3 linked regions of the Homo sapiens genome follow. The protein of the gene in region 3 purifies or fractionates together with the protein of the main gene of each other region. This does not show direct contact. Each region holds a gene or a part of one and is shown on either strand. Other genes may lie near its edges.

Region 1 (3,655 bases), on a different chromosome or scaffold from region 3:
GGTAGTGAGACATTTCAATATATAACCTTGTATATACTTTGATTTTTGAACCATATGAATGTATTATCTAGTCAAAACAAATTTTTTAACACAGGACTTAAAATGAATTTATTCTAGTGGGATCAACAATTGGAAGTCACAGAAAATGTAGTTTTTTAGAAGTGTTGATTAAATATTGCTACTGTGACAACCACTTTCCCAGACAAGTGAGGTCCAGGAATCAGGGATCTGTGCCAGTGTTGGGTGTTTCAAGAGCCTGGTTTAGATGCGGAAGTGGAGTTCTACTTTCCCATCTACTTCAGGCTGCAAAGAGAACATATTTTGCATAGGTAATAAAGGCAAACTCTCTACGTTCATCAATATCAAGGAGTCAGAAAGAAGGAGACAGTCATTGTGCCTGGGGTGAAGTCTCTTGCCACAGTGTAAGTGCTTCAAGGCTGGCCATAGCAATGGGGTCATTAAAAACAGGGTTTGCCAGAGCCAGAGATCCTGAAGTGTTCAAAATGGCAAACTCTCTAGATTTTGGGAGGCCAAGGTGGGCAGATCACTTGAGGTCAGCAGTTTGAGACCAGCCTGGCCAACATGGTAAAACCCTATCTCTACTAAAAATACAAAAATTAGCCGGGCATGGTGGTGCGTACCTGTAATCCCAGCTACTCAGGAGGTTGAGGCAGGAGAATTGCTTGAACCTTGGAGGCGGAGGTTGCAGTGAGCTGAGATTGTGCCATTGCATTCCAGCCTGGGCAACAGAGCAAGACACTGTCTAAAAAAAAAAAGTTACTAAAGTTATTAGAATGGGTAAGCAGTTTATTTTTCTCTGCCTCATTGATCTATTTATATGTCTGTCTTCCTTACCACATTGTGGGAATTGAAGACATGAACTTTAGCTGTAGTGGAAAAAGCATGGACTTTGCAATCAGGCAGATCTATTTAAGTCCAAACCCCTTCTCTTTCTAGCTATTTGACTTTGGTCATGTTATTTTTATCACACTGAGCCTTGGGTTCTGTGTGCATCATAAAATTGTTCTAAAGATTAAGTGAGAGAAAAACATTTGTATATAATCATCTTGCACATATAAAATATTCAAGGGAAGTTTTGTCTTTCCCTTTTTGCATCTTTCACAGAGCTTTACATTTAAAAGGTATTCAAAATATTTATTAAATTGAATATGTTTCTCTTTACCTGTGAAATCTGAACCCTGTTTAAGGACAGCCTGAGGGAGGCATATTTCTAAGGCTTTTACCTTGAGCAATAATGTCATTGTTGCTAAATATTTTATCAAACAGCTGTCTGTTATGCGCAAAGTGCTGTTTCTGCTTGCTGCTCTGGTCTATCTTTCCTACATATCGTCAGAGTCCAGCTTAAAGCTTTTACTTTGTGAAGTCCTATTTCTTTTTTTCTGTTTACAGGACCTGTTCTCAACTTCAGTTTTTATAAGTGGGCATGACAGTCATTCCCTTATACTCACTACTCTTCAAAAAAAAACCCTCAACCACATACTCTAGGGATGGATAAGTACAGGGATTGTTAAATATCTTTCCTTGTTTTGTCGCCTGTTTCTTGAGCACCAATACAGTGCTAGGGTAGATATAAGCAGTATTAATACATGAGTCCTGCCTCCCAAGGAACAGTTTCTTTAGTAAAAAAGATATGCATGTACAAAAATGTAATTAATTATTTAATGATATGATATTACTTTTGTTTGCTGTTTTACATTTTACCATTTAAAATCCTATTTTTAAAAACACATTCCTGCTTGCAGTCTCTGACAAGAAAGAAAGTAAAACAAAACAAAACAGATATACCTAAGCACATAGAAAAAGGATTGGAAAGATATGCACCAAGATATTGACAGAGCTTATCTCTGAATGCCAGTATTTTGGGTGGTATTTTTTTCTTTCATTTTGCTTACCTGGATTCTCTAGATTTTCAGAAATTTCGTTTTGAAGTTATAAGACATTCATCATTTCCCCCTCCTTGCTAACACAACAGTGACCCCTCTCTTTCTTTTGCATTCAGCTTTTGCGAGAATTGAAGCACCCTAATGTGATTGCATTGCAGAAGGTGTTCCTTTCTCACAGTGACAGGAAGGTATGGCTGCTGTTTGATTATGCAGAGCATGACTTGTGGGTAAGTATAATCTCACTGTATTTCTAGGATTGTTTTATATAGGTATGGAGCATATTTATATAAAATACATATTGTTAATGCACAGAAAGGAAAGCTTGCTCTGTTAGCCATATTTCAAAGTCAATATAAACATAAATGTTGATTTTGAAGAATTTAAGCAATAAACTCACATTTTACTGAGAAGATAGTATTTGTAATATTTAGAAATTTTACTTCAGAAAGATTTTAATGAATGGGAGACTATACTTTTTTTGGCCCGGGGGAGACGAACGGGGAAGGGAGTTTTGCTCTTGTTGCCCAGGCTGGAGTGCAGTGGCACGATCTTGGCTCACTGCAACCTCTGCCTCCCAGGTTCAAGCGATTCTCCTGCCTCAGCCTCTTTAGTAGCTGGGATTATAGGCATGCACCACCATGCCTGGCTAATTTTGTATTTTTAGTAGAGACGGGGTTTCTCCATGTTGGTCAGGCTGGTCTCGAACTCCCAACCTCAGGTAATCTGCTCACCTCGGCCTCCCAAAGTGCTGGAATTACAGGCGTGAGCCACCATGCCTGGCGGGAGACTATACTTTTATGCAAGTAATTAATGGCAGTTTACTAATATGTATAGTGAAGATTGCTTTAAGGATGTTTTTATCAACGTATGAAAGAAGCAAAAAATTCTAATTCCTGTCTTTTCAAATTAGGAATCAGAACATTTAAACACTTTATCTGAGGAACTGCTAAAAGTAACAAACTTCAAATCTGGCACTAAGTTAAAATTATGGATAATTAATTTAGCACCACTATGCCTGGCTAATTTTTCAAAAATGTTTTATAGAGACAAGGTCTTGCCACCTTGCACAAGCTGGTCTTGAACTCCTGGGCTCAAGTGATTTTCCTACTTTGGCCTCTCAAACTGTTGAGATTATAGGCATGAGCCATCACACCCAGCCTTTTTTGTTTGTTTGTTTGTTTGAGACAGGGTCTCGCTCTATCACCCAGGCTGGAGTGCAATGGCACAGTTATGGTTCACTGCACCTTTGACCTCCTGGGCTCAAGCGATCCTCCTGCCTCAGCCTTCCAAGTAGCTGGGACCACAGGTGCATGACCACACCTGACTAATAAATTTTGATTTAATATAATGTGGTTTGTCATCTATATAAGTTATAAATCTGTTGAGGAATAACTTTAACAGACTCAGGTCTTAAAGAAACTTTCAGAGTGTATGCTATTATAGCAGATATGGACAAGAATTTCCAGTGTGTTTTTTTTGTTCAATTCTTTTCATGGATATTCACAGACATTGTATTTTCTCCATTTTTCTATATTCCCCTATATGTCAACCAAGGCTTACTGGACAGTGTATGTACTTTACTTTGAACATCAGTGGGGTGATGAAAGAAGATGATGTTGTACATTGGAATAGTCAGATCCTGTAGAACTGTACTGTCCAATACCATATTTCAAAATAAATATAATCATAAATGTTGATTTTAAAGAACTTAAGCAATAAACTGACATTTTACTGAGAAGATAGTATTTGTA
Region 2 (4,144 bases), on a different chromosome or scaffold from region 3:
CCTCCTTCTCCCTGGGTCTCGAGCCGCGTAGTGGCCCGGAAAAGTTTGGTTCGGGCTGCTTCTTACCGTTTTTCCTCCTGGGATTGGCTTGTTTGCGCCTCTTGCACCGGGGGCCATCCGCCATGATCGGCTGCTTCATTGATAAGAGCGGATCAGATGGCAGTTCGCATGGACTCGGCGCCCTGCTTCGGCAGCACGCAGGCTCGATCTAGCAACCAAACACAGCGACAATGTGGGCATCGCCCGCGCCCATTGAAACGCGCGCGGGCCGCCCAGGGGAGCCGGGCCAGGGCCCCGGCGAGCACCCATCCGCGCCCCCCAACGCCAAAGCGAAACTTCGGCGGCCCCCTCCCCGCCCCCCACCCCCAGCCTTGGCCCCGAGGCGCTTTGTGTTTGTTACTGTTTGGTGTGTTGCACCCGCGAGGGGATCAGAGAGACAAGAATTACATCTTCAAAATGAGTCATAACTCCTGACCGTATGAGGGAATGCACACGGCGGTACAGTAAGACCGCTTGACTCAGGGCTAGGCGGACCCTTTCCTTCGAAAAGTCCTCAGCCCCCGGCTCGGGAACTTGGGGTGAGGCGAGGTTTTCTTTTCGTTCTCATCTTTTCTCATCCCCCCACCCCCCAATTCCCAGAGGAAACAAACAAACAAACAACGCGAAACAGCCCCTGGATGAAGCACACTCGGGCAAATTGATAATAGTAATTATAGGAAGCCCACTCGCCCAGCGCCCCCTCCCCTCCCCTTTTGGAGTTTATCGAGGCACTGTCTCTTCCTCCCCCCACCCTCGCCCCCAAATTAAGATTTCCCGTTTTACGCCGCAATGATAAATATAATTATAAGCCTCTTTGGACACTGTCCTTTACCCCACCCCCCCTCGCCACTTTGACAATATTTACTTAAGTATTTCCCCCCACCTCACTCACACACATGCTCCCCCACACTGGTTCCCTTAAATAGTTCCAGTAGAATTTTTTTTTTCCCTTAAGAAAGGAAAGAGAAAGTCCAACCACTACGGCAATACTTTTAAGCTCTACTAAATGATCGTATCCTTTCTGGCTTCGAAACTTTTGTACCTAAAAATCGAGAGAGGCGCTGCATTTTTTCAGTTGAAACTGTCAAAACTTGGAGAAGGGGGACCTCGGAGGCAGGCAGGAGAGGAGGAGAATCCTGAAAACTCGGTGGAGGTTGGGAAGATGCTGTGCCTCGAGGATTAGTTTAAACAGGGGGCTATAAAAGATGTAACAGATGCAAACTGTAACACAAGGGCCATTAACCCTTTCTCTGCCGGGCACACTCAGTCCCCACGCCCCACACCTATTGTCTCCTGTGCTAGAAGCTTTGCAGAAAACCTGGAAAGTGAGTATCAGTTTCCACACATTTGCTGAGAGGGGTGAAGGGAGGGGGGCAGAGAGAAGGGGAAGTGGATATTTTAGAAAGCACCTTAAATTTACCTAGGCATACATAGTAGGAGACTTTTAAGTTTGACATATTTTATCATTTCTTTCCTTGTCCTATTGATTTGAAATTGTTAGGGGAAATCCTGAAATAAAGAAATGGTCACACAAGTGTCTGGGATGAAACAGCTGGCCTGTCTATATTCATCCTGAGACACACGACTGCATATAAATACATGTTTAATAAAGTAAGTTGCTAGTTTTATGGGCATGTGTGTGTGTGAGAGAGAGAGACAGGGCATTTGTGCTGTAAACTTTATCTTTGCCTGTTACTCCTAAGTCTGGAGTTAGTAATCTTGCCTTCATCATTACAGGGGGAGCATGTAAAATATATCAGTAGGTGGGAGATAAACACATTCATGTTAGCCGGGCTCATCACTGTTCCTGGGAACTCCTGCTATCTCTCTCTCGACTTTTCAGTGCCAAAGTATGGAATGGGATATATGTGTGTATGTGTCTTCTATTAAATCCATGTCTATATTACTTTGCCACTAAAAATACAATTTTAAAAGTTATCCTAATTTAAAACCCTGATATCCTGACAGCAGTTTTCTTCCCAGCTGTAGTGCCCCCCCCTCCACTTTGGTAAACGACTCAAGTTCCATGAGGACTTTCACTTCTTTATTTATAATCACAGAAGTGAGGTGTTACTTCACACACATACACACACAAAGAATGAAATAAAGAAATGAAACTCGCTAAGCAGACAAAAACAGACAACTTTCTGCTTAGAAAACAGCCTTCTCGGTGGGAGAGGATGAACTGCCATGTCTAAGAGAAAGACTTGCCCCCGAATTTGTAGGTCTGTAACTGACCAAGTTTTGTAATTATTAACAGGTATTTGCCAAGTCCTAATTGCTGAATATAATGAATTGGAACTAGATGCGAAAATAGAGCAGGACCTCTCCCCTTGATGAGTTTTTATTCCAGCCATATAATTCTCAATAAAACTTTTCCTGGGCTGGATAGCAAAGGACACCTTTGGTTACCTGAATGAACAGGTACAGGGGAAATTATTTGGGGGAGGGAAAAAGGAGAGAAAAGCAAGGAGAGAGAGTGTGAGTGTAAGAGAAAGCGAAGAAGCCACTCTTGAGAAAAGCTTGCCATAAAGGAGCTAAACCCACCTGAAATTCCTACCCACGGACACCCCTTCTCACTTCAGACTCACATCCCCACTCAAAATGAGAAAATTAGAAAAGGAGGATGGAGGACGAGCACACCAAAAAGGGATAAAAAGAGAGAAAAGGGGAGGAAAAAAAACCTACCTGCGAAGTCTTGTTTGTAGTTTTGGCCAGAAATGGTGAGAAGAAAAAGCATGAAGAAGCCGCGAAGTGTGGGGGAGAAAAAGGTGGAAGCGAAGAAACAGCTCCCGGAGCAAACTGTACAAAAACCTCGCCAAGAGTGTCGGGAGGCAGGACCGTTATTCCTGCAGAGCAGGTTAGAACTGATCTCTTTCGGCCACTCCAGGAAACACAAACCTGGGGACGGACTGACGTGTTACGCCTCTTCTAATGACATTTTTTTCTTTTTCTTTTCTGTAGGAGAGAGACGAGAGACCCTGAAACACGCGCCACCTATCTTTGTGGGGAGGGATAATTGAAGCGCCCTGAGCGTGAGCATCATGTGAAAACGTGATCGCCAAGTTTCTCTCTGGGAAAGGATCTGGGATAGATTATACCTTGAAGTCTCCGCAAACGCTTTAGTGGAAGAAATGAAATTCCACCTCCCTCCCTTCCTCCTCTCCCTCCCTTTCGCCTTCGCCTCCCTCCCCCCTCCCTCCCTTCTCCCCCCCTCCACCCCCCCCTCCCCGCCCGTCAAGCCTTTGGCATCATTATCCTCATCACTAAATCCTACAGAGTACAGGGCGGAAAACGGTGCACACCATTCACAGAACTGGAGAACTCCAAGGGGCGAAAGTTAAAGGGAAAGATCCCGGGTCCTCAATCCAGATAGTCTCTTCTTATACAGATATCTCTAATGACCAGATTTGAGATGCACATCAAATTGTGTAGGTATCTCAGTACAGCTTCTGGAACAAAGTTCTCTGCCCTTTCTCTTATTGTTATTTTTTTCTTTTTAGGTACCAGAGCCAGAAAAAAAAATGCTGCATGGGAGCTGCATCTTAGGGCATGTGTATTAGGGTGTGTGCATGATGAATTTCTGGACTGGATCCCAATATTAAAAAGTAGTTTGGCATTTTAATAAAGGGTCTCTAAGTAAATTAAAATAGAACACTCGGTTGGCCGATCTCTGAATCTCTCTACACCTCGGGGAGACCTCACTACAAAGTAAGGGAGAGTGTGTAGGGAGGCAGGAGGAGAAACGAGAAAGGCCATAGAGAAACTTAGCAGGGAAGGGAGAGCATGATATTAAACGGCATGGGGTCTAAGTTTTGGAGTATATATTTTTTGATATTACAATTAAAGTAAGATTAAAAAGAAAAGACTCCACCTTTGCTCTGAAGGGATTGGTTATGCAAATATGGAAGGGATTTCCTGGAGAATACAGCTTTCTACTGTATGGTTAATTAAATAATCACTCAAAAGCTTCCAACGTGACGCTTCTGTCGTAATCCAATCAGGTTACATAGGTCCTAAACAAGAAAGATATTTTCCACATCTGGAAGTCAGCAATTTAGCAAGTACTGCACATTATTAACCAATTCAGAGCCCACTTCCCAGG
Region 3 (3,014 bases):
AAAAACAGAATCTTTATGTCCAATAATGGGTGATTAAACAAACTGTGGTTCATTTGCATTAGGCAGTTATTAAAATAATGACATAAAATTCACAACATATTGTTATGTGAAAAGCAGGTTATTAATTAATACACACATACACACATATGCATAACAACATATTATATGATTCCAATTTTGAAAGTATTTAAAAATAATTACATATATTTTTAAAATACAGCAGTTATGTCTAGACAGTAGGGGGGAATGTGGTAATTTTTTTTCATTCTTCCTTGTATTTTCTGCATTTTCCAAATTTTCTACCATGGGAAAAGACAATTTTTTTCCTGGGAGACTGTACTTAGTGTCATTTTCATTATGTCTTATTTTCACAATTTATCTTGTTTCTTCATTTTTGATACCAAATGAACATTAATAGCCCCAACAATGGTGGCTCTAGGGCTGAGGCCTGTTTGCATTTTTTTTGCCAATACGCTCTAAATTGGGAGCAGTCCAATAAACTATGTTGTTGGAACACATGGGAAAAGCCACTGGCAATATCTTACTTAAGTCTAAGAAATGTAAGGCAGGCCTAACTTAGTACACCTAACAACAAAGACATGAAATCCAAAAAGTAAAAAAAAAAAATTCTGTTTATTGTAATAATTAAATAAGAGTAAACATTTTAAAACATATAAAAATAACTTTAAAATATAGTAACACTTTACAAAATATGTATCTAATTAAAAATACATTAACATAGCATCCCTCAAACTATACAAATATAGAATATATATTCATGAAATTCTTTAGAAATATAACATCTATTCTTTGAATAAAGCTTAAAATTTGTTTATAATTTTCAAACTAAGAAAAGAAGTAGTGAATAATAGCTCCATCCAATTTATAATTGTCTTAAAGAGAATGATTATGTATCATTTCTTGCTTGTCTTTTCTAATACCCAGTCAATCACCTAGGGGGAGAAAAAATATGATTACAGAAGATTTCTCTTGAAAACACAAGTAATAGAAAAATATATTGTAAAAACTTCAAAAGAACATGGTAGAAAATTTCAAATAAAAAGGAAGATACTGAAATCTTATACTTAAATACACATTTTATTTTCTAATGGAAGAACATTTTTGTTGGACTTCCAATACTGAGTACAATAATGTTCTCACTGGATGAAATGAAGATTCTGCTCCATTTTCTCACCTTTATATGAAAATATGTTTCAAATGGTCAATCAAATAAACTAAACTAAACTTTGAAAACAGCTAACCAAAATGGATTGGTTTTTCCAGCTAATTTATTTTTTCTTTTGCTTTCTTAGTGTCACTTTAGAAACTCTTTTGCTGACAGAGCAATCTACTAAATACTATGAAATACTCAGCCTAAATAAGCCTATGAAGTTTCTTAAAGAGTTTTCATAGGGACAGAGTTGAAAAAGACCAGTAACTGATTACTGCTGCATATATAATGGCATCAGAGCAACCCTGAAATAAAATACCAATTTAATTGAATATAGTTTCTTGGGAATAATTTCTTTACCTGTACAGCATTGTTGTTTGCTGTTTTCTTCATTTCTTCAAATAGACCCCTTGAAGTTTTAAGATCCTAAACATAATAAAATACAGCATTTTACAATCTGCACATTAAATTACAAAGAACAACTCATTATTATTAAATACACTTGAGATTATTCTAAATCATTCTACACGTATTAATGTGATTAGGGACAGACTACAACAACAAAAAAAATCTAAGTACTAGATTATAATTTAGTTCCATTCTGAAATATCAAAATACTCTAACCAAAATACATACACATATACATAAGTCCATCTCACTCTCCTCTCCTATTCCCAATAGAGCTGACCTAAAATAACTTCCACCCTCCACCGTGAGCATCCACTAATGCTGCATTACTCTCCCATCCTCCACCGTGAGCATCCACTAATGCTGCATTACTCTCCCATCCTCCACCGTGAGCATCCACTAATGCTGCATTACTCTCCCATCCTCCACCGTGAGCATCCACTAATGCTGCATTACTCTCCCATCCTCCACCGTGAGCATCCACTAATGCTGCATTACTCTCCCACCCTCCACCGTGAGCATCCACTAATGCTGCATTACTCTCCCACCCTCCACCGTGAGCATCCACTAATGCTGCATTACTCTCCCACCCTCCACCGTGAGCATCCACTAATGCTGCATTACTCTCCCATCCTCCACCGTGAGCATCCACTAATGCTGCATTACTCTCCCACCCTCCACCGTGAGCATCCACTAATGCTGCATTACTCTCCCACCCTCCACCGTGAGCATCCACTAATGCTGCATTACTCTCCCACCCTCCACCGTGAGCATCCACTAATGCTGCATTACTCTCCCATCCTCCACCGTGAGCATCCACTAATGCTGCATTACTCCAGAAACAAACATATGGTTTGTATTTATTTATCAGGTAAAAGATATTTTTTCTTCATTTTGGCTATTTGACTCCATCATAAAGAAGAATGACATACAAAAGGAAGCTGATGTCTCACTTTTAAAAATTTAGTGATTATTACAAAGTAAAAGAAATGGAATTGTATTTAAAAAGATAAGAAGCAGTTATCTGTTGTACTTCCAAGTTACGCTCCATAAAGGCAGCCACTTTCAATTCTTTCAGGTTTTTCCCTTATTTATACCTTAATGTTTCTAACTACTATGCTTATGTTGCTACTTGGTGATTAAACACTTTTAGACACTGACTACTGATGTTAGGGAGAACTGATGTTAGGGAGAACGTCATGGATGGATTCAGGTCTCGTACACAAAACCTTCCTTCTCTTCCTTTGAAGAACAGTTGTACCACAATTTTTGATTGTAAATAGGCAGTGTTTACACTATTGTATCTATGTAAATACTTTCAATTGTGTGCTAATTAATGTATTATGGTTATAATTTATCTTTCTTCCAATATTCTATTTATCCTGTTAACTACCTGTTAGCTTTTTTCATTTGCTCAGCTTTCCATGTATATAAT

Evidence for each region.
Region 1: the proteins of MTBP (region 3) and CDK19 purify together in Homo sapiens (affinity purification with western blotting; 2 studies listed by BioGRID and IntAct, with this or other methods). This does not show direct contact.
Region 2: the proteins of MTBP (region 3) and ZEB2 purify together in Homo sapiens (co-immunoprecipitation; one large-scale study listed by IntAct). This does not show direct contact.

Annotation. Positions count from the first base shown.
Region 1 is NC_000006.12:110,668,907-110,672,561, reverse strand, and holds part of CDK19 (cyclin-dependent kinase 19), read left to right. Parts: intron 1-2,020; coding exon 2,021-2,131; intron 2,132-3,655.
Region 2 is NC_000002.12:144,517,212-144,521,355, forward strand, and holds the start of ZEB2 (zinc finger E-box-binding homeobox 2), read right to left. Parts: upstream 2,909-4,144; 5' UTR 2,728-2,908; intron 2,464-2,727; exon of another isoform or gene 2,403-2,463; intron 209-2,402; 5' UTR 140-208; coding exon 67-139; intron 1-66. UniProt on the Homo sapiens protein: Transcriptional inhibitor that binds to DNA sequence 5'-CACCT-3' in different promoters. Represses transcription of E-cadherin. Represses expression of MEOX2.
Region 3 is NC_000008.11:120,521,237-120,524,250, reverse strand, and holds the end of MTBP (mdm2-binding protein), read right to left. Parts: intron 1,598-3,014; coding exon 1,532-1,597; intron 954-1,531; coding exon 915-953; 3' UTR 615-914; downstream 1-614. UniProt on the Homo sapiens protein: Inhibits cell migration in vitro and suppresses the invasive behavior of tumor cells. May play a role in MDM2-dependent p53/TP53 homeostasis in unstressed cells. Inhibits autoubiquitination of MDM2, thereby enhancing MDM2 stability.